3 separate regions of the Homo sapiens genome follow, and regions 1 and 3 are each linked to region 2. Evidence: fine-mapped expression QTL. A gene starts in region 2. Each other region holds a variant in brackets. All regions are shown on one strand. Distances are from middle to middle. Region 1 has its middle 43 kb from the start of GBE1. Region 2 holds the start of GBE1 (1,4-alpha-glucan branching enzyme 1). Region 3 has its middle 73 kb from the start of LINC02008.

Evidence for each region. PIP is the estimated chance that this variant, and not a neighbour inherited with it, causes the effect. A credible set is the group of variants that fine-mapping cannot tell apart.
Region 1: its variant is the best candidate, but not a certain one, in a credible set for the expression of GBE1 in whole blood (TOPMed, PIP 0.73).
Region 3: its variant is the best candidate, but not a certain one, in a credible set for the expression of GBE1 in whole blood (TOPMed, PIP 0.89).

The regions. Positions count from the first base shown.
Region 1 is chr3:81,800,553-81,808,741 of GRCh38, reverse strand. No RefSeq gene overlaps it. Among named protein-coding and RNA genes, the nearest start is that of GBE1, 43 kb to the right of the region's middle. The variant C/T (reference allele first, on the strand shown) is at 3,468.
Region 2 is chr3:81,757,828-81,766,003 of GRCh38, reverse strand. GBE1 (1,4-alpha-glucan branching enzyme 1) reads left to right here and starts at 4,359. Exons shown (of 16, transcript NM_000158.4): 1 at 4,359-4,629. The coding sequence starts at 4,487. RefSeq lists silencers at 4,131-4,230, 4,731-4,810, 7,392-7,686 and enhancers at 3,886-4,494, 4,281-4,570, 4,911-5,080.
Region 3 is chr3:81,908,780-81,916,968 of GRCh38, reverse strand. No RefSeq gene overlaps it. Among named protein-coding and RNA genes, the nearest start is that of LINC02008, 73 kb to the left of the region's middle. The variant A/G (reference allele first, on the strand shown) is at 4,389.

The DNA.
Region 1 (8,189 bases), 43 kb before region 2:
AACATATATAATTAATTACAAAATTAAATATTTGTGCTTAACTGGAGGATGGAGAGAAGTGGCTTATTATGATCCTGTAAAAAGAAAAACCAAAGTAACTATGATGTTCAAATATCCAAGAAAATAATACATGCTTAAAAAGCGAAGTATCTAGCTATAATTATTTTCTTTTCCATCCAAGAATTAACCAGCTAACTAAATATAGCTTTTACTAAATCAATTCTACATCATACATAAACTTTAATGTGAAAATCTTACCAAACAAAAATCTTCCACTTAGAACCTATTCAAAATATTGACAAAAGATTTTCTTTCTGAAACTGAGAAATTTGAATTAGAGATGCTATGTAACAATGAAACGTTAACTTAATGAGTCTATTATGCCATCGATAGACAAATATGTAGAAAATGTTTTTAATCTCATAGAAAGAAAATGGTCTTGGTATCCCTTATTTCTTCCCATCTTATTGTGAAATAATATTTTATGAGGCTAATTGTTCAACAACTGCTATCTTATCTGTGAAAGGAAATTGCTTTTTTAAAAAAGTAGGCCAAATAAAATAGGCCAACTTGTTTATGAACAAAGTATTTTAATCCACTCACTCATAGTTCTTGGCTTTTGACAAGAAGTCTCTGACATCTGAAATGGAAATATTCACTGTATAATTACACAACTTTAACATGTATATATATATATATTCATGCTAAAAATTTTAGATGAGCTTATTTGAATAGTGTAGGCCATCCATTAAAATTGAGAAACTTATTCAGTTGGATTTGTTATTCCTAAACATATCCTCATATGACATTGGAACTGTTTCCTGCCACGTATTGGCATATAGTTTTAAAGTTACAAAATTTTTTCTTCTGGCCACTAATTTAAACAAGTCTCCAGTAGAACAAAGGTAACTTATACTCTGCATCATGTTCACTAAAAACTCAATTATAAAGAGATTACAATGTACGGCTGATAAATGATGTAATTTGATAAGCAATTTTTAATGCTATGCTTTAAGATAACAAAGGAAAATTTATAAAAATGTTAGTTTGAGAAGTAGGAATTTTCAGATGAATTGAAGTTTTTCTATATAAAAACTATGTAGCCCAATCTTTTCATTTTGAACTTTCCTGTAGGCCTCAAAAGACAAAAAATGGTTTCCCAAGAGGACTATATTTTTAGTCATCAAAATGTTATCATCATTACTGAGACATTTATATTGGGACATGTAATTAACATTCAATGTAGTATAACAAATCCCATAGTCTTAATGCTTTATTCATTTATTTCTTACCATTATTTGGGTAACTATAGCTATCAAAATATTATAAAATAATATATGTAATAATAAATTCTAGCTACAATTATGACGGATAATAAGCAACCACTAACATATCAATGGCTTACAAAAACAAACATTATTGTTTTTCCATTTATAAATATGTAGGGTGGCTGCAGATCCTCTAATTTCAGCTGGGCTTACCAGGCAGGACTCGGCTAGGCTCGACTAAACTCCAGGCCTGGGACTGGGTTCAAACCTGTTCCACCTGTCTTCATCACTCTGGGACTAGAGGCTACTCAAGCATATTTTTCTCACGGAGCAGAAACACAAGAACTCAAGCCTAACCACATTGGCACATTGAAACTCCTGCTCATTCTCTGGCCATTCACATTGGTCACATGGCCAAGCCCAACATCAATAAAGTGCGGAAATATATTTCATCTACCCTAGTAAGAAGGAGATAATACCAAATCACTTTGCAAAAGGGTGTGCAATTCTAGAACAAGAAAAGAATGAAGAATTGGGGACAATAATATTCTACAATATTTTTTGCAATACATCATAGTAGACATTTATTACTTTTAATTTCATAAATATACTTGCACACTTTGAGGAATAAGCTCATGATAATTAAGGTAAAATAATCTACTTGTAATAATAATTTAAAGTTGAAAATTTAGCCAGAATTTATGCCAGTTTATATTATGCCAGTTTAGGTTAAACATACATTTAAAAATTAATTGGATTCTTAACATATGAGTGCATTTAAATTATATCTCCCAGAACAAACCAAATGAATATGATAACATCATTTGAAAAATTATTTAATGACGGCACTGTTTGAATAGTGTACCTTTTCCTCTTGATGATTGGAAATAACATTTTTCCTAGCATAACTTTAGGGCAAAGAGCAGACAGTAATAGAAATCTAACATTTTTCTTACATGTTAACAAAAAATATTTTCTAACATGATTATATGATGTTCTACCAGAAAATTGTGTTACATAGTAGATCTAATGTCAATAGAAACTCAAATACGCTGGAATGTAAAGTCTATAACTATTTCAGCACCCTCACCAAGTGTGGCTACTTCTCTGAGCACCCACCTCCAGGGCTAACTGAGAACTATAAATAATCCATTTGATTCTTGACATTACTGCCCAGAGTGGTGAGAAATGAAAAGGCTGTGACATGTTTTTTTATTCTGATTTTGTCTTTGTTTTTGGTGCCTGTTTTTATTGCATGAATTTTTAAATGTTGAAATGTGTTATTTAAGAATCACCCTAAGTCATATTAAAGTATAATGGCTAAAAGAAAAACCAAAGATCTTTTTTAGTACTTCTCTACTTAAAAATCTTCAATGACTCCCAAGTTACCTACAGAAAGTAGTTTTCAGCCATTTAGCTTTCTAACTTTATCAACCCTATTCTCTTATCCTCCAGCCAAATTAAGCCATTCCCTGTTTCTAAAACTTGTCCAAGGCTAGCCCACCTTTTTAATTTTTTTCTGGCTGTTTCCTCTATAAGACACTTCCTTCCCAATTATCCACAGCCCTGCTGACCTCCAAACATTTACTTCTATTAAGAACTCAGAACTTTCCTCACAAACTTTTTCTCATAACCCCAAGACTATGAGTTCCCATTGTCTCACCCCATCCCTACTTCTGGTGGTACTTAAAATAGTCTACCTTTTGTGTAATTTGTCAATAGTCATTTATTAAGTACCTGCTGTGTGTCAGGAGATTGTTCTTGCTCTTTATAAGCTCAGTCTATTTTGCATGTTTGCTCTATTGTAACAAAGCATAAGCTCCCTGAGATCAGACTGTCTTGTTCATTTTTCTCTTCTCTGTGAGGGGCTAGCATATTCACTTACACACAGTAGGAGCTCAATAAATATTTACATGAAGAAATAGTAATGTGGAGGAAAGTCTCAGTAATTTTTATTCATTTGGTCGATGACTTCTCACAAAATGATATAAAATATGACTTTAGACTTCAGCAAAAGCACCTGGATCATAGACACTCAATAAACTGTAGCAGGGTCATTAGAGGTAATTGGATCTATTTGAGCCAGAAAAAGACTGTGCTGTTTGCCTCGAGGCATTTAAAATTAAAGCTAGAACCTTATTTGTATGAAATAGCTTGAGTGTGGGTATGCATAACAGCTGCAACTTCTCAAGACTATTA[C/T]AGTTCTATAGTAAGAATTTTCAATATTCAAACAGTAAACAATAAACTGAAAAAAAGATATAGATACTCTAACCTGTAACACTTTATTTATATAATTAGACATCTCCAAATTAATCAACTAATTTTAGTTGCATAAAATAATAAAGCTGCTAAAATTTTGTATTTTTAATGTTTTTATCCTCTTTGATCTTTTTCTATCTTCCTTAAGTACAACTTTTATATGCCATTAATTGCTCAAAAACATAAAGTAGCCCATTATTTCTTTATAGGCATGAGAGTCTAAAGCTAGAATAGACTGGAAATCATTGAGTTTTATCTGCTAATTTTACTCAGAATCAACTGAGGCCCATAGAAGTCATTACTGAAGTCTCATAACCTATCAGAAATTAAACTGTGACTGGAATCCAGGTCTCCTGACATAATGTTCTTCCTGCTTCACCATCTTATACATTTTTAAACTCTTTGTTTTTCAAGATCTCTACGATGACACTTCATTATTAAAGTTACTTAAACTTACTTCCTAACTCTCCTCCCAAAACAAATCTTCACTCAGGATGACTACCTTCTATCATACCTACTCTTGTCATGAAAATTATTTCCTTAAATTCCTTCCACCCAAACTCAAAGACTGTCCTCCTTTGTGAAATAGACTCTGTTTTGCCAACTCACAATGGTATTTCCAGTTTTTTAAAAAAGTATTCTGTATTACATGTACAAAACTCTGATAGCTAAGGTGCTAGATGGAAAGACTGTTCTCAAGAAGTTTAAAATAGAGTTGGGGAGATTAAACATGTTCACATAAATTAGGCAAAAGATTACGAATGTTGCAAGATGGACACAATGGACAGTAGAATCACAAAGAAGAGAAAGATCAATTTTAGTTAAGGACATCAAGTGAGGCTTAATATGTAGGTGGTATCTGTATTTAAAGATGGTAAAAATTCTAGAAAGAAGGAAAGACAATCGAAGACAAAAACATTGCACAGAGGCAAGAGTGGGAAAGTGCAGATGGAAAGCAGCAAGTATCAAAATTGGCAGCGCATTAGAGTTTGTTAAGCAGTGTGGTAGACTTTGTCATAAAAAGTATTAATTTCCAAGAGAAGATGTTTGGGCTTCATTTTCTAAGAAATGTGAACTTGTTGAGAGTATTTGAGCAAGGCAATTTTCTGATCAGAGTTCCGCTTTGGAAGAATAAGCCAGATGGAGTCTATAGAATGAATGAAAAAGGACATAGCTCATGCCAAATAGACTAGTTGGGAAAGGAATGCTATAGTGGAAGGAAGAGTTAATGCGGGCCTGGGGTAGAGTTGGAAGTGGAAAATAAAATATGGGTTCAAATGTGCACCAAAACTAGAATAGAGTCAGTAGGAATTGATACCTGATTGGATATGGGGAACAGAGAGTGGAGAAACAGTTAAGAGGGGTAGCTATAAAAAAAGAAAGAAGAAACAGAAGGACAAGGAAGTATTTAAGGGAAAATTCTTACGATCTTTTTGAAGCATACTGAGTTCTAAATTAAATTCACAACATATGTACTATAATATGTACCACAAATCAACATGCATATTTATTTATTTATTTATTTTTGAGATAAGGTTTCACTCTGTCACCTATGCTGGAGTCCAGTGGCATGATCATGGCTCACTGCAGCCTTGACTTCCTGGGCTCAAGTGATCCTCCAGCCTCAGCCTCCTGAGTAGCTGGAACTACAGGCACATGCCACCATGCATGGCTATTTTTAAATTTTTTTAATTTTTAATTTTTGAGACAGAGTCTCACTCTGCTGCCCAGGCTGGAGTACAGAGTTAAGATCTTGGCTCACTGCAACCTCCACCTCCCAGGTTCAAGCGATTCTCATGCGTCAGCCTCCCGAGTAGCTGGGATTACAGGCATGTGCCACCATGCCTGGCTAATTTTTGTATTTTTAGGAGACAGGGTTTCACCATGTTGGCCAGGCTGGTGTCGAACTGCTGACCTCAAGTGATCCACCTACCTCATTCTCCAAAAGTGGTGGGATTACAGGCGTGAAGGACCACACCTGGCCATTTTTAATTTTTTTGTAGAGACAGGGTCTTGCTATGTTGCCCAAGCTGGACTCAAACTCCTGGCCTCAAGCAATTCCCCTGCCTCAGCCTCCCAAACTGCTGGAATCACAGGCATGAGCCACTGGGCCTGGCCTCAACATGTATATTTAGATATAGTAGCAATTTAATGCTTACTTACACGCTGACATACATTAATTCAACTATTTCCATCTTGACGCCTCAATGATACCAGATACTTCTGGAGGGAGGGAAAAAAAAGGAGTAGGGGAATGAGTTGGGATGTAGAAAACTCCTATTACATTCCACATTCAGGCACAGTACAATTGCTACTATTTCCGTTTTACAGATAAGGAAGCTAAAACTTAAAAATATCACATTACTGGAGATAATAACATTGTGTCCCCAGTCTTACTGACTTCTGAATTTATGAACTTTTTTTTTTACCTTCTATCAATGGGTAGAGACTTTTTTTTTTTTTTTTTACCTTCTATCAATGAGTAGAGGCTTTTTTTTTTTTTTAACCTTCCATCAATTGGTAGAGGCTCGGAGAAGCAGATTTTAGCTAAGTAGAAGGGAAAAAATAACTTTTAACAATTTCAGCTGTGAAATTCAGGAAAAGAACTGAGACAGGGAAGCTTTAATGTGCTTAAGAAGGTATGCAATCTGTAAGCAAAGAAAATCACAAAAGTTTTCATCCTGAATTATCTCAAGATAACAACTGATAGGTGACAATGATATGTAGAAGCAAACGTAAATACTACAGCTTTTTCTTCTTCTTCGTGCTGGTGTACAGTTTTTAAACAGCTGCTTTTTGCTTTTTTTCAGACTCAACTAGATTTTTTTTTCACAATTTTGTTTGAATTTCATGTATATATGTGGGAGCATCTGTTGTAGTTAAAACTATGTTTTTCTTAAATGCAAAAGCAATTATCAATTCAGGAATTAACTTCTAATGAAGATTTCAGAAAATAATTTCTTTGTCAAAGATTTCTACCTGTTTCTCCATGAATCTCTAATTTCTTTCTTTTTTTTGAGATGGAGATATCTTAATTTCATAGATTATTAGTGGAATGAATAAACGAAAATATGTTCTGTCAAGAACAAGAATGTGAAAAGTGAAGGTTTTTTTGACATTAGGAAACCAAGCTCCATTGTACTTGCATGCACCAATTCTCTCTGAGCTAGTTACGAAATATAATGTAAACTAACATTTCAACTTTAAAGCCAAAGTATAAATTCAGGTCTCATCTTTTTGCATAACTACATCCCATTTGTGAAGAATACTCTCTCACAAATAGGCAGACTAACCTGAGTACAAACGATCCAATGGTCCTGCTAAAATCTGGACAAAACAAAAAAAGGAAAATAACAAAATCCACAAAGAAATTCTACTATTGCCTTCTCGTTAAAGTTGTTTACTTGATTTTCCTTTCATCAGTGAAAGGGTGGGTGGGGTTTTATAAAAGAATTAATGTTCATTTAATTTTATTATTATGTATGGAAAAATATTATGCAAAGTGGGTATGATTTCCACATGGTGTTCATTAACTGTATGTAGATCAGGTCCAAATTGTGATAGCTTGAAATATAGAAACAACTTAGTACAATATACAAAGGGTATCCAGTGCAAAATGAAAGAAAGTATTTTGGTCAATAACCAAGTGCTTTTCAATAGCTAGCGCCCTTGCAAAAATCCACAACAAGATGGGAGGAAGTAGCAAGATTTGAAGGATTAAGAAATAAATTAGAGGGTTGGGCACAGTGGCTCACACTCTAAATCCCAGCACTTTGGGAGGCCGAGGCAGGTGGATCACCTGAGATCAGGAGTTCAAGACCAGCCTGGCCAACATGGTGAAACCCCATCTCTACTAAAAACATACAAAAATTAAGCGGGCATGATGGTGGACACCTGTAGTCCCAGCTACTCAGGAGGCTGAGCTACGAGAATCACTTTAACGTGGGAGGGGGAGATTGCAGTGAGCCGAGACCACCACTGCACTCCAGCCTGGGCAACAGAGTGAGACTCTGTCTCAAAAAAAAAAAAAAAAAAAAGAAAAAAAAAGAAAAAGAAAAGAAAAGAAATTAGAGATTCATGGAGAAACAGGTAGAAACCTTTGGCCAACATTCGGTCCAAGAATAGATCTTAAACTCCCTAAGAGTTCACCAGATTGTTTTCTGAGGAAACCTATGTCTAAAGTAAGACTTATTCACCTGGCTCCTGAAGTTTATCACCACAACAGCTCAGGCTGGGCAGATGGGTGATTGGGAATTCTGGATCTTACATCTTCATAGATCTCTCTTACCTTGCACCAGAGTTCATAGTACATAGGATCAAGGCCAAAGACCTTGAAGGACTGGATCTAATGTTGCCAGCTGGCTCTGGGAGGACATATAGAGGGCAGGACAGAAACTTACCATTTTCAGTAAGTGTCATGGTCTGCATCAGGAAAGACTGATATGTCTACATGTGAGATAAATGCTGTCCAACAGAATATCCCTATTTTTGAATGGGAGAAACTGAGGCTGACAGAGTCTAAGAAATCTTCCCAATGCAATCTTGCGTTCAGACTCCAGAGTTCATAATCTTTTCACTATATCAAGAAGTTGTGATATTCCCTAGGCAGGTCAAAGATTTTTTTAAGAAAATGTTTTCATATTAGGATTCATCTTTAAATTT
Region 2 (8,176 bases):
CCAGCCCGGGGGACAGTGCTAGACCCTGTCTCAAAAAAAAAAAAAGTTACTTCTTTTTTCTTTCTGCTCTCTGATTTTCTTTTTCATTGCTAATGATTTTCAACGAGGGGGATATGTAATTTTAAAAGGTATATTTATATAGTCTAGTTTATCTTTAGTTGGTATAAATCATTTGCCTTTTAAAAAGCATATTTAGTATTATTTTATCCTTCAGAATCTTTTTAAAAATAGCTTTGAGACATAATTCACATACCATACAATTCATCCATTTAAAGTGTACAATTAGTTTTTAGTATATCCACAGAGCCATGAAACCATAACCACAACTAATTTTAGAAAATGTGTACCAAGAAGAAATCGCATATCCACTTGCACTCACTCTTCGTTTCCCCTGCCCTCCAGCCCTAGGAAGCTAAAAATCTGCTTTCTTTCTCTGTAGATTTGCATATTCTGAACATTCCATATACATGGAATCATATAATATGTGGTCTTTTGTGAGTGGTTTCTTTCACTTGCTATGTTTTTAAGGTTCAACTGTGATGTAGCACATTATCAGTAACTCTTTGGCTTTGTAATGCAAACTATTGAAAAGCAAACATGTGACATGAGACTCAAATACCAAGAAAGAAAGGTTTCAAAATATTTATTGAGGATCTCCTATTTGCCACCGTTAGCTAGTAAACGCATATGGATCATTCTCTAATTGTTATCTTCATTCCTACATGATCTATTAGGCACCAGAATTACATTTCCAGCTGCCATATTGACTTGGGTATCCAGGAGCTGACACCTTGAACTTAGTTCTCCCTCTTTCAAGGCCTTCTTTATTTTTGCTAGACAGAATTCCCCCAGGCTCAGAAGTTCAATCTTTAATTCCCTTTTCACTTTCATATCCAATCAGTCACCAAATCTTATAAACTCTATTTCTCAAATATTTTCTCTGTTTTGGTGTGTCAAAAATGTTATGGGTTGAATTGTATTTCTCCACAAAAAGATACACTGAAGTCTTAACCTAACATTACCTCAGAATATGACCTTATTTGGAAATATAATAATTGCAGATATAATTAGTTAAGATGAGGTCATACTGAAATAGGGTGTGTCCTTCATTCAATAAGGCTGGTGACCTAATAAAAAGAACACTATGTGAAGAGACAGAGACACAGGAAAATGCCATGTCACAATGGAGGCAGAGATCCAAATGATGCAACTATAAGCCAAGAAATGCCAAAGATTGCTGGCCATCACCAGAAGCTAGGAGAGAGGCATGGAATAATTCTCCTTCAGAGCCCCCAGAAAGAACCAAACCTGTGGACACCTTGATTTTTAGCCCCTAGAACTAGGGTAAGGTGACAAATTTTTGTTGCTTAAATTACCTAGTGTGTGGTACTTAATCACTACAGCCCTAGGTAACTAATACAGACACTAAATGACTTCATAATAGTTTAGGCATTCATTATATCATGCATCCCAAATCTTTATTTCATCATTTTATCTGCTACCCCAGACCAAGCCATCATCATTTCATGCCTAGGCAATGTTAATCACCTCCTAATTGTCTCCCTTGTCTCCCACAAGAATGGCACCCCTATTGCCATTCTTGTATCCTTATAATTCATTTGCCACATAGAATATTTTAATAATTAAACCATATCATATCAGTGTTCTGCTGAAAACTCTCCAATAGCATCCCTTAAATGGACATTAAAGGGCCTATATGAACGAACAGCTGCCTAGCTCTTGCACCACAATTCCTGCCACTCCTCATTACACACCGGGTATGCTAGATTTTTTTTTTTTTTTAAAAGACCAATTCAATTCCTCCATTGCACGAACTCTGCCATTCTGGAATGCTCTTCCTCTCATGGCTCATTTCTTCTTGTCATCACACTTCAGCTTAAATGTCAGTTCTGAACGGCCTTTCTTGACGACCGGAACTAACACAGATATTTGCTCAGTTTTAATTCTCGACAATGCACTTACCACTATCTGACATTGTTTTGTATTATTTTATGTATTTCACTGGTAATTGTGTCTCCTCTCCCTCCTACCCCCAATAGAGTATGACAACTGGGACTTGTCTTATCATTTATCCACAGTACGTGGGAAAATGGCCGGCACATGGGACTTCAATAAATATGTGCTCAATGGTGAACCACCTAGGTAGGCAGATATGTACGCTAGGATCGTGCTCGTGGGGAGCTTAGGTTCTAAAGGGAAAGGTCAATAAATAGGAGAAAAACAAACACCTAGATTCTGTTAACTGTTGCATAGAAGAGATTGAAGTTATACAGAAGACACTGAGGAGTCTATAATCAGAAGTTTCTCAGGTATGAGGTGACATTTTTGCTGAGGCTGGAATGAAGGCTTGGAAAAAATTAAGCAAGTAGAGCTCAGCTCCCTGAAAATTTCCAACAGAGAGAACAGCAAGCAAATAATCTTAGAGGCTATTATACAACAAATTCACTGAGTTCCAGGAAAGTCAGTGTGACTAGAGCATAGTAAAACTGGAAAATGATGAGAAAAGTGGCTGGAAAGGTAGTCAGGGTCCAGATTATACAAGCCTTGTTAGAGAATGATAAGCTGTTTCTATTTTACCCTAAGTGAAATACTATGCTATTTAAGTTGCTAAATGACATCGTCTGATTTACTCAGTGTAGAGTCTCACCAAACTGTGTCCCCAACCACCAGCATCAGAATCACTTCTGAGCTTGTTAAAAATGCAATCTGAAGCACCACATCGGAACTCAATTAAGATCCCTAGGTGATTCATATGCACATTAAAGTGTGAGAAACACTGGTACAGAGAATGGAGTAGAGGTGAGAAAGAGTAGAAGAGGGGAAGTCAGTTAGAGAGCTACATTCTGGTCCAAGTGAAGGAAAACAGTGGCCTGCATAAGAGTGACAGCAGGAAGGATGAGAAGACGGATTCTAGGTCACGTTTTGCAGACAGTTTGTTTAGGTCTCCTAGCCAGCTAAATGGAAATCTCAGTAGACAGGCAGTGATACAAGCCTGGGTTTCTGAAAAAAGTTTAGGCTTGGAGATGTAGATCTGTGGGTCTGTTATTAATAGTTGTCCTGCTTCGGGTTTTTATTTTTTTTTAATTTTCTTCCTTTTTTAGTGCTTTATATTTTACAAATGTCTGCAGCAGTTTTTTGTCATCTTTATGGAAAACAAGGCACGTCTTAAAGTCGTTCAAGTCCTTCACTTTTTCACACTGAGGTCTGTCTTCATATCCACTTATCTTTCAAGTCTATGAAACCCCTTATAAAAACTTTCCTTTGAAATATTTTAAAATTCAAGGCCCACGGCTGATTAATACTGTTTCTCCTCCATAACCCCTAGGATCCTCCAGTTCTGGGTTTTAACAAGAAAAATATCCTCAATCCTCTCTAGTTTCTAGGTGTAAAGCAGCTTGGACCCTCCTGGGTTTGGTGGGTCCATCTCTCTTGGAGTCCAACTCTGTATTCCTAAAAAGCAATTATTGAAATAGAAGCTAGTCAGTTAATGGCAATAAAAGAAGGGAATTCCAAGTGGGAGCTTCCCAAGCCAAGAGGAAGAGAGGTTTCTTGCCTTATCACTGTAAGTGGCAGAGTGGAGTTCCAATTCAATGATATCATTTGTGTTATCAAAGGTAGTTTAATCGTTGAAAAGCTTGTTAACAATTATAAACACAGGCAAATGCCTTTTCCTTTTTGGCCTTACGGAGAATGAGAAAAGTTCTTCCCATGGCTAAAATTCTTAGCTGTTGGTAATGCAGAAAAGAGTACCAGAACAGCAGAATTCCAACGGTATTCCAGGATTCTGTGTCTTGGTTAATTTTAAATTCACGTGACCTGGCAAACTTAGGAGAGTCCTGGTTGTAAGAGGTATTAACATTTTCAGCAGTAGTACTCTAGCTACACTTGACTGTTCCCCTCTCTGTGAATTTACATGATATGTTTGAAATACTGCCCCTCAAAAGTCTCAGAACTTTGAGAAATACGGTCCTTTCCAAAAAAACCCCTTATGTCCAATTTGAAGGGGTCGCTGTCAGTGGGTGCTTAAGTGGGTAAAGAAAAGCCAAGAATATGTCAGGGTGAGGAAGGCCAAGGCTGAGCGAGGTCAGCTTGGGACCCACCTCCTAGAATGACCTCCGCCAGCAGGAAAAAACCGTTAAGGGGAGGAAAGGGCAGGTCCCTGCGGCCTCCAGGTGCCAGCCGCGTGAGTGGGCGGAGAGGCCTCGGTGCCTCCTACCCGCTCCGGACGTGCGTCCCGGCATCACCCCGGGATCCGCTCCTCCCCGCTGGCGGGGGGAGAAAGGGCAGGAGGCCTTCCGTCCCGGCTATAAAGGGCCCCGGACCGCCGCGGCTCGCCTCGGCTTGCCTCGACACGCCTAGGCGCCCTCCGGCTCCGCCCTAGCCGCCGCGTCCCAGCTAGAGCTCCAGCGCCCGCTCAGGCCCCACTCGACCTCTCGGGCCTCGGCTACTTGGACTGCGGCGGAATATGGCGGCTCCGATGACTCCCGCGGCTCGGCCCGAGGACTACGAGGCGGCGCTCAATGCCGCCCTGGCTGACGTGCCCGAACTGGCCAGACTCCTGGAGATCGACCCGTACTTGAAGCCCTACGCCGTGGACTTCCAGCGCAGGTACCGCCGGAATCCCACCACCCCCACTTAGACAGGCAGCCCGCCTCCCAGGAGCCGTCTCGGGACACGGGCCGCCCCTCGGCCCTCGCGCGCCAACCCCGCCCCAGGCGGGGAGGAACCTGAGTGGGCGGGGCTCGGGGTGACTCGGGTAACCGGGTTCTGTGGCTTCCGTAGTGGCAGGTTTGACAGCGCTGGTGCCCGGAGCGGGCGCTGAAGAAACTTCTTTCCTCATCCCCTTTCCCCTCTGTTCTAATCAGCGGTCTTGCGCCATAGGGTACGTGCTGTGGCTCCAACACTTATTCCCCAGAGTGCTGCTGGGGAGTGACTCACCGCCGCTGCAGGTTTTCTGACTTTGGCACCCACTAGCGTGGGCCTGTGGAGTAACGTGGGCATAACTCCTGGCACGTGTAATTACGCATTTAAAACTTTCTAGTTTATTTCATAGCAAATGTTGTGATTTTATATCTAAGAGGATTCCTTCAGGCAGACACTATATCCTTTTGTTTTTTCCTTGCTAATATTCCTCATTTAGGGGAAGATTACACCTACATTGATCAATTTTTTCTCCCCTTGGATCAACATTGAGAAGTTAAATGTACATCAACATTTGTCCGTGTGTGACTTTAACCATCTTGAAGAGGGAGAAAGGTCAGGAAAGCAACTTTTACAGGCCAATGTCGTTTTAGCTTGTCTTCTACCATTGTGTACCATACAACTTTAGTTACTGGGCTAATAATTCTATTCATAAGTTCCACTAAAAAGGTACAGGTCTTTTTCTGTTGTCGTTGTTGTTTGAAGTAAAAGAGCTATTATACAAGTTGTAATAGTTATACTTGTGAGGTTACCCCATTTTGATTTAATAGTTTCTCCCCTTTTAGGAGAGACACTGCAGAATGGAAACTATCCTGGCAACAGAATATACATGGCCAATTTTTCGAGTGATGGAAAACATCCAACTAGTTAACTGGCATGAAGGAGCGTTGAGAGTAATGAAAATGGGTTGATTTGGAGTTTGAAAAAAGCCCAGCAAATTGTTTGTGTCCTAGCATTTTCAGGTATTAAATGCATTCAAATCAGCAAGTGTTTATTGAGGAACTCCTATAAATAAAACACTGCTCTAGGGATTGTAAGGGATGTGAAGTTTCATTCTTGAGCTTGTATATAGTAGTGAATGAGGCCTCTGTAAAATAATCACCTTGAGCTGTCCCTCACTTAATCAGATGATTATGCTCTTATATAAACCATATGAGGAGCAGCCTTGTGAAATTGTTTTCAGAATTTACAGTATATGCTTTCAGAGAAACTTAGTGCATAATCGTCATAGGTTTAAGGTTGGATTTGATTTAGAAATAGTCAGAAAAAATTTAGAACAAAAGATAGTGATTAAAGGTAGTGGTTAGATTTTTTTTTTGATGTCCTTGTAACCATGACATTAATTTACCTGTGTGCTTTGTAAAAGGACACTTAAGATATTTATTAAAGAAGAGTTGTGGAAATGTTTTATCTACACCCCCTTCCTTTTTTTTTTAAATGACACAAACAGATTAACATTCTTTATTAAGTGTTTCTTTCATGTACTTTATTTCCAACTCCACTGGGATTGAAGCATTTATAATCTTCTTTCATGGTTTGCCAAAACTAATGAAGGGAACAAAGGCCAAGATAAAGAAGGGAAGAGAATCCAGTGTGCTTGGTGAAAAGTCTCGTCCAGTGGGCCCTCATGCCTCACTCTGACCCGGATTTTACTTTTGTCCTTGGTTCTGAGTAATGGCCATTTGCTAGCATACATGTTCCATTTAGGCATATCAAATAGTAATTTGGCATTTGTTAGTGGTAACTTCTATTGTTAACACTTGAAGAATAAAACATTTTTCCTTCATACAATCTGGTCTTAGTTCCTTGTCCAATTTTCCATTTATTTCTGATAATCCATTTGGACTGTGTGTCTTTGGCCTAACACAAATACATAACCAGTCAAACACTTAGGTGCAAAGTATGCTTACTAAGGAGTGAAGAAAATTTGAGGTACAAACAACAGTATATAATTAAGGTGATGAAGAAGGAAATTTCTCTTTGATGGACTGTCTCATCCTTCCCCAACAGATATCTTTTGATTTGAAATTTTTTGGATGTTCCCTTAGGATGTTTTGGATGTTCCTTCCCTTCTTTACCTTGGCCTTTTCCCCTTCTGTATTAGTCCGTTTTCATGCTGCTGATAAAGACATACCTGAGACTGGGCAATTTACAAAAGGAAGAGGTTTATTGGACTTACAGTTCCAAGTGGCTGAGGATGCCTCGCAATCATGGCAGAAGGTGAAAGTCATGTCTCACATGGTGGCAGACAAGAGAAGAGAGCTTGTGCAGGGAAACTCCCCTTTTTAAAACCATCAGGTCTCGTGAGACTTACTTACTATCAGGAGAACAGCGTGGGAAAGACCTGCCCCCATGATTCAGTTACCTCCCATCAGGTCCCTCCCACAACACGTGGGAATTCAAGATGAGATCTGAGTGGGGACACAACCAAACCATATCACCTTCATTAGTTGTTCTTTTCACCTTCTGTACCTGTGAGAATTTTGAATCAAGTGTAGAGGATTAATGAGTTACTCTGCTATAAAATAAAAATTAGTACATTATTAGCATGACTGACCACCTCCATGTTGTCTCATTGATGACCTCCCAAAATAGCATTTTCCACTTGATTTTTCTACCTTTTATTTAGTTATTTACTTGTTGTTACACTACAATTAGTTGTTATAATTCCAAAATCTTAGTGCTTTAAAACAACATTTAATTGTTCCCATATTACATGTCAGCATGAGTCAGCCAGAGGGCCCTCCTCATGGCAGTCACTCAAAAATCTAGGCTTATGAAGGATTTGTTTTGAAACATGCTTCTGTAGAGGTGGTCACAGTGCAAAGAGAAGCATGTTGAACTATGCACTATTTCTTACAGCTTTTGCCTAGCAGTGAGTCCATTCTGCTGATACGTTACATTGGCCAGTGCCCATCAGCTTGCCATGTGGGTGAAACAGAGAATTGGCATTTGTGAACATTGTCAAAACAACACAATTTAATAATACTACTTTATACCCTCTGTTTAATGTTTATAAAGTACTTTCAGATCCGGTATTTAATGTAATCCTCATAACAAAACCATGAGGTAGACAGACGGTGGGCATTTTTCCTGTTTTGCAGATGAAGAAACTAAGTGATGGGCTTGAGCATATATGGCATAAGTAAGTGCTGCAACTGTGATTAATCTTTCTTTACTGAAACTGTTCTCAACCAGTTCACAGACAACTTCATGATAATTTAGGGATCCCTCTTTTCTTTATCTCTAGCATTGTACATGTTGGACTATTTCTTGGCTCTTTGAAGCCATAATCTTGCTTTTCTTTCATTTTCTCAGCCTCTTTTTGACCATTTAATGTAAGAGATTTTCAAGGTTCTTCCCTGGGATCATTTATGTATTTCTATTGTATATTTTCTCCCTAGACATTCTCATCCATCCCATGGATTCCATCTATCTACTGAGGCTGCCCACA
Region 3 (8,189 bases), 150 kb before region 2:
AGCCCTGTTTGACCATTTTATCAGTCAGAATTTTTTCTTGGCTCTCAAGAATGCAGTAGCATTTTCTTATCTCTGGAGATGAGTATATTATCAGGGTTGTATGAACACACTGATATTCAGATTCTGAGAATGTTTTGTGTAAAAACCACTGTTTGAAAAAAAAAAAGAGATTCTCAAATAGTTTTTAAAAAATGTAATTGTCTTGCTCTCTCCGTCTGTCTGGAATGTTACTTAGTGTAAAGATGTTATAAAGTTTATCCTTGGAAGAGAAAACCAGTAATCTCTTCAGGTTTAGGCTTCAGTGTCATTCTTTTCTTTGTTTTTTCTGTTTTTGTTTTGTTTTGTTTTGTTTTGTTTTGTTTTTGAAATGGACTTTCACTCTTGTTGCCCAGGCAGAAGTGCAATGGCATGATCTCAGTTCACCATAACCTCTGCCTCCTAGGTTCAAGGGATTTTCCTGCCTCAGCCTCTCAAGTAGCTAGGATTATAAGCATGCGCCACCACGCCCGCCTAATTTTGTATTTTTAGTAGAGATGAGGTTTCTCCATGTTGGTCAGGCTGGTCTCGAACTCCCAACCTCAGGTCATCTGCCTGCCTCGGCCTCCCAAAGTGCTGGGATTACAAGCGTGAGCCACCGCACTCGCTGTGCAGTTCTTGATGAGATAGTTTAGCTCCAAGTCTGAGCCCCAAGAAGGCAAAGTTATTCTCTCTCTCTCTCTCTCTCACTCTCTATCTCCTTTCTCTCTCTCCCTCTATCCATTTAGCCAAGAATGGTGGTTTGCAATCCTAGTTGCAAAAGATCAAGAAAACCCATACGAATCTTTCAGAAACAAAATTGATCTTCAGCTAAATGAGCATGTTAGTAAACCAAAATTTGGATAATCTGTGTTTAAATTGTGAAAGTGGAAAATGATGGGTTAAGGGATTGAGTATAGGAGAGGAAAGAGCCTTAATCATTTTAGCAATTAGTATGTAATATCCTAAAATGATTCACTAATCACTCTGCAGCTGGTATGCTGAGAAAATACAGGGTACAAAAGCATTCCTCAAATGTCATAGTCCATTGGAATCCACACTTTGAAGAGAATGTAGAGCTGTTGACTTGCCCTCTGAAATTACATAACAGAAACCCTGATTAAACCTATGGCTTAGTTCATTTTGGATGATGTTATTATATTTTAATGAAAGCTACTCAGAGTTTGGTCATCTATAAACAGGACAGTACATTTGTCAAGTGGAAAGCTGATACTAAATCTTCAAGGACTTTCAAAGGCCGTTTAGTTCACAATCACAGAGGTCAGTGCAATATTACTTCTCCGGATCTACTAAGTCGAAATCTGTAAATGCCACTTAAATAAACAGTCCCATCTGCAAGTTTTTCATAATCACAGGTCTTAATACTCGAGCTATCATATCCACTTGCCACAAATAGAAATAAAAGAGAGTAGAAGGGAGAAAGAAATGAACCACCTGAAAATAACATTCAAGGATTACACTGGAGTTTTTGATTTATGTATCACAAAACATAATGTGCCGCTCAAAAGGTAAGAGCTTTTCTTTCAGTAGAAGCTAGTTATTTAACCCAACCACAGGTAGTTGATAATAGCAGTGACTTAAAGAGTTATATACCTCAAATTACCCCATGTTTTACCCTGCAAATGCCCACATGAGGATACTTATTTTGTTATATATTTGTATGGAAAGCTCACCACTAACTTCAATGCACTTGTAAACCTACCTGTCTGTCTGCCTTACCACAGTGTAATCAAAAAGAAAAATGTTGGTTGGGCAATAGTTATTTGGCTCTGATGTTGCCTTCCTTTAAATTTAGTAAGAAGGTCTTGGACCATTTCAGCCTGCTTCGTTATCAGAATTGGTATCCATTTACCTATGATTTGTTCTTGACAGCGATAAAATTCAGAGATATTGCTCTGGGTGTGTGGTAGGCTGACAGTTGTCAAGGCTGCTCCTACGGCCGTCAGAGGCTCCTTTTACACTACCCAACTGTGGATTGTAAAACCAATTCAAATTATCCAGAAGCCCGAAGGTTATAATGATGTTCATGTATAGAGAGCTTTTATTCAACAATTCAAAGTTCTGTGCAGGAAGTCATTATGATAAAAGCTTTCTTACCAAATTATGAAGTGTTGTATATGTGTACAGTTAAATTCGGAGAGAAAATATGTAAGTAATTAATCCATGGGAAGAAATACAGCGCTATTTTGATTATACCCTGATTTTTAACCCCTTGCAGACTACTATTGTTTTTCTTAAATTAGGATTTTTTTTAATGATTAACATGTGTGCTTACCCATACATTTTTTTGGGGGGTGGGGGTCATGCATTTCTAAGTAATTCTTGAATTAACATACTGTTATAGTTCAATTAACCTACAACTCATGCACAAGAGTTAATAGGCTCCTATAAATCTTCAACTAATTTATTCTTCCTGTCATCTGAATAAATATCATGAGTCATTTCTGGAGAAAGGCAGTGCTTTCTTTCTCCTTTCTTTTTCTATTTTGCCTGAGGTTGTGCTGCAGTGCCTGTGTGCCCCTGTCACTGGAAGGAAAGAGATATTTGGTCTCTTATAAATAAGAACACAAAGTCTTTCTCTGTATATTAGAATTTTTTTTAGCTAAATTGATTATTTTAGCCAGGCCAAGTTTAGTAAGGACCAGAATAGCACTAAGTTCATTGATCTTTAGTTCTTTAAAGAAGGAAGGAAGAGAATTCAGCAGTGAAGCAGGCAGTTCTTCATTCTATGCATAGAGATTGCAGGAATTGGAGGTGAAGAGGACGCAGCTGCATTTTCTTAACTTTTGAATGAAAAGCAATTATGCCAAGAGCCTTCATTTCAGATTGTCAGCATGGGCCTATGTCATACCCATCCTGACACTCCCAAACTGAAGATTTTAAAGGCCTCCTGCCTTTGTCATTGAGACACCTGTCACCAACTACACTGAATCAGCATCTCTAGATGCTGGGAAATACATATTCAACATGAATCTATGTAAGACACAACAGTAGGGAAGCTGGAATTCTTCAGAATCCTTAAAGAAAAAAAATGAAAGGAAAGTTTAAGCCTGAAAAATAGCTGAAGTCGTAAAGAAATTTTTCACCCTGTAAAACATACTTCTGGTTCCATTTTCATTTGTTTGTAATTGAAATCACTAAGCTCCAATGTCAAGATAACAATGTAAATTTTTGAAAATATTTTAAAAAATATATTGACTAAATATTATTGGAAGAAAGTATTGAGGAAAAATATGGGTTTATCCGTGGAAACTGTAGCCTATTTGGGCATATTATTACAGCAGGAAATATTTCTAAAGACTTTATGTTTTATTTCAAGATAGAATAATAATTGATTAGAATGAAATAATCTATTAGTCATATAGTCTATTCTTTAGGAAACAGGGTAAAATAAAAAGAAACTGATTCTTTAAAGTACTAGAAAAATTTTGGTACTCTAAATGTTAAATCTCATTTTCAAACACATTTATTATTCGTTCTTACCCTCTTCATCCTTGTCCTCCTGCTTAGGATCATATCTACGAGTCAATTGCAAAAGCAGTGCTCATTTCCCGCTTACTCGACTATATCAAGATATTCAATTTATGATTTCTGAATTCAAAAGAGAGACAACCCCCAGAACTCCAAGTGACACTTAGACGAACTCAGAGTTTTATAGTTCACCAGCTTAGATATCTTTCCAAAGAAAGGCTAATGATTTCTTTATTACCTTATTAGCTATTAGATGGCACAGTTACACAAATGTATGCAATGGTAAAAAATTAATAATTGTATATAACTGATGGAGTAACAAAATCAAAATGTATTATATAAGATGAGCCTTTACCTGAAGCACTCAATCAAATTCCTAATACATTAATACATATGATTTTATGCATTATTAAAATTAGAAATGTAGTAGTACATATAGTTTCTCTAATCATAGCCCATTTTATCTTGACAAATTATGACCAACCAAAATATTAAAAAATACATTTCTAGATTAAAAGGATACATAAGGATGCCATCCAAAGTGTGCATACTGTATTTTCAAACAAATTTTAATAACTCGACATCAAATGACAGATAAAATTACAGTATTAGATCAGGACTTCAGACTTTAGATAAATTCTAATGGAATACAGAGGAAATGGAATCTATTTATTTATACAGGCAAAACCAAGAGAGGAAAAATTAGATGTAAAAGAATTTTTGACAGCAAGTACTTGATAATCTATCTTAAGGTTAAAACTAATAATATTTTATCATGTGGAATTCAATTTTCATCCATTTTGTCCTGGATATAACAACAATCTATTTATTAACTGACTAAAACACCATATTGGCTCTCATTCATTCTACTTTTTCAACAG[A/G]ATCTATTTAATTGAAGATATTAACATGATTAATGTTCAGTCACTAACCTGTGAGATCATAGACCTGATACTCTCTGATATTAAACATTCAGCTTTGCATTTCTTTCTGATCAAGGCTTTGAAACTACAGCTTTCCAGCAAGTAGTGGAGTTAGTCAAATGGAATATTGTTTTTTCACTGGCCTATCTTATCCTAGTAAATAAGAGATAGTATGCATAGAACATTTGTGCATCCTACTTCTCAGGGCCACACCAAGGCCATCCCAAATGCTAGTATGGATGTCACTTACTGACCAACTCAAGTACTTATCAGACAATATATTGACTGAGAATTAATGGTTAAAACTTCAGTTCTCCCTTAATGTTAATGAAGAATTACCATGCTAGGTGTCAATGCAAAAAACAGCATAAGGCTTTCCAAAGAATCTTATGAGGCAGGCATTATAGCTCATTATCTCAGAAAATATACACAGTAAATACACAGCACTGAGATGATTAAAATCCAGGACAATTGGAAACCCTGTTTTTCCACAACACAGATCATCATGTTTGCTCAATTTTTAATTTCATCATTTTTATATTGAAACAATAATCTGCTCTTACATCTTGGAAAATTATCATAATATAAAATTATTCTTTAAAATACTTTGAAATTTTATTTTTAATACATGACAAGCAAAATAATGACCTCTTCCCCCACCCACCATCAAAGATGTCCAAGCTCTAATCCTTGAAACCTGTGAATATGTTGCTTTACATGGCAAAAGAAACCTTGCCTCTGCAGATGTAATTTAAGTTAGGAATATTGAGAGCAGAAGATTATCCAGTCGGGCCAAAGGCAGTCATAAGGGTCCCTACAAGAAGGAGGCAGGGATGTCAGAGTAGGAGACAGATTTGAAAATACTATACTGCTGACCTTAGAGATGGAGGAATCATACCATTAGCCGAAGAGTGTAAGAAGCCTCTAAAAACTGGAAAAGGCAAGGAAACAGATTCTTTCCTAGAGCCTCCAGAAGAAATACAGCTCTACTGACACTTTGACTTTAGCCCAGTAAGATCCCTTTGGGACTTCTGACTTCCAGAACTGTAGGATAACAAATTTGTGTTGTTTTAAGTCACTACATTTTTGGCATTTTGTTTTACAGCAGCAATAGAAAATACCTGTGGTATAGGGCTACTGACAGGATCTCCTTTCCTATGGTCTTGGCAGTAATGAAGCCACCGTAAGCTTATAAGCGTCATAATTGGCATCTACACTGACACTGAGGATATGGGGAGAATCTGAGTTATTAGTTTGGCTCTCCATGCAGCATTTGCTTGACTTTGCACTCCATTTTAAACCATGGAGGCCATTTTGTGTTTTATTATAATACCATTCCCAGAACATATTACGAATTGGAATTAACTGTGTCAGTTATTTAACAAAAGCTTCCGCTCTCTGTATCCACTTAGATGCAATTAATGAGCCAAAAGAGACCAATCATATTAGTTTTAACTGCTTGGCCTTAAGCTTACAGCAACTTCCTGCTTTCTTGCTTTGGAAAGGTCATCATAATTCTATTTTAAAATCCTAAAGATTACAAAACATTTAAAACACTTCCCTGAAAATTTTGTGAGCTCCCAAAACCCAGTCAGGTCAATAAAGAATTATCATTTAACATTTGTTAAGCATCCACAGCCTGGAAAGTATCATACCAGACAAAGAAAAGCAGACAAACACACTGAAGAAATTATGAGAACTTCTTTTGAAAAAAAATAACCCTCACCTATAGGTCCTGGGAGGTGATAATTCTGATTGACCAGAAGCAATGACTGAAACTTGATTACAAGCAACAAGCCATGATAAAAAAGCCACACTAATTTTTGTTCCTGGTTAAAATGTCAAGGTCTATGATTGGACTAGAGGAGTCAAAGATCTGAACTATTCTCTGATCATTTTGAGAGAAAGGTCAGTGTATGATGATATGTACTTCAGTAATAGGCTTGCAAATTTTGTGAAAATGATTTTTTCATCCTCCGTTCTTGTGGCTAATCTCTGAATTATTTTGGATATTGATGATGAACAAGGTTTTGTGCTACATGTTATAGGAGATACAATAATTAGTAAGGCCCCCATTTCAAGGATGTCGCCACCTAGTGGAAGAGAGAAAAATACATCCGTATGCACATGCTTCCCGGACGGTGGGAAGATCACATATTTCCCTCACCATGCTTAGCAGAAATTGTCTCATTAAAGATCCTTAATACATGACTAATTATGTAATTACAGCACAAGGTAGAATGAGGTGAAGATTAAGTTAGAGGTACAAACAAAATGCTGTATATTAAATGCTTCCCAATATTTGGAGAATGACTAGCTTATATAATTGCCAGTTGCTAAATAACAAAACTACGTTTGGAGTAATATAAATTGCCTAAGGTCAAAAACCTTTTATGTTGAAATAAAAGCAATTTTTTTTAATTAAATGAGCTTTTGGCTTGACTTTAAAGGAACTCCCATATAGATGTGGTGACAGGAATTTCAACCCCTTTCCTTTGCATCAGAGGAAAATCTGAATCCCAGGAATTAAGACTCATGCCATTCCCCATTCAACAGAGAATGCAACCATTAAAAGCTACTAAGGTCTCTGGGCTGATGCCAGACCCCAAGGGCTCCAGTGTACAATGCTGTCGACTCACTGGCAGCACTTAGCTTTACTAACAGAAGGAATGTTCTTTCCTCAATTTAGATTTAAATGATGCTACCTGTAAAATAGGAAAAACAGTTTAGATACGTAGGATGAACAAGTCTACAGATCTAATATACAACTTGAGGGCTATTGTTAATAACATTATACTGTATTTGGTATTCTTGCTAAATGAATAGATTTTAGCTGCTCTTGACACAAAAACAAAAAAAATTAGGTAACTATATGAGAAAATGGACATGTTAAATTGAGTCACTATAGCAGCCATTTTACTATCTATGGTATATGTATTCCATAACATCATATTGTATACCTTAAATATACACAATTACATTTATTATTTTAAAATGTTTGTATTTCTAAGATGAGCTTTCTTAGGAGTTTGTGTAACAGTGAAAACACCAGTGGGAGGTGGGGGGTGGGGGAAGGATCATAAAATTGAAGGATTCACTTTAACTTTCCTTCAGGGAACTGGAGCCTGGAGACTGCAAATTTGCAAACATATAGGATGACTTACCCAATGCTGGGAGCACCATTGAGACTGTGGGACTCAGGAAAGATACAGACTTTTTGTTTTGTTTTGCTTTGCTTTTTTTGTTTTGTTTTGTTTTGTTTTTTTGAGACGGAGTCTCACTCTGTTGCTCAGGCTGGAGTGCAGTGGCACGATCTTGGCTCACTGCAACCTCTGCCTCCTGGCTTCAAGTGATACTCATGCCTCAGCCGACTAGCTGGGACTACAGGCACACGCCACCATGCCTGGCTAATTTTTTGTATTTTAGTAGAGATGGGGTTTCACCATATTGGCCAGGTTGGTCTCGAACTCCTGACCTCAGGTGATCTGCCTGCCTTGGCCTCCCAAAATGCTGGGATTACAGGCGTGAGCCACTGTGCCCAGCCAGACACATTTAATAGCTCCACCTGTCAGGAAGGTCAGCATCTTTCAAGAGGCAGATGGGGCCAATTTCAGACAGGGAAACTTGAAGGGGTGGATGAAGTATATAAACAACAAAACAGGTCGGGAAAGGAGGAAGTAACCATGGGAGTGCCCCTCTTATCAAGACGCATCTGTAAAGACCTCGGAGAGCCAGTTCAAAAGAGAGTTCAAACTGTCTGGA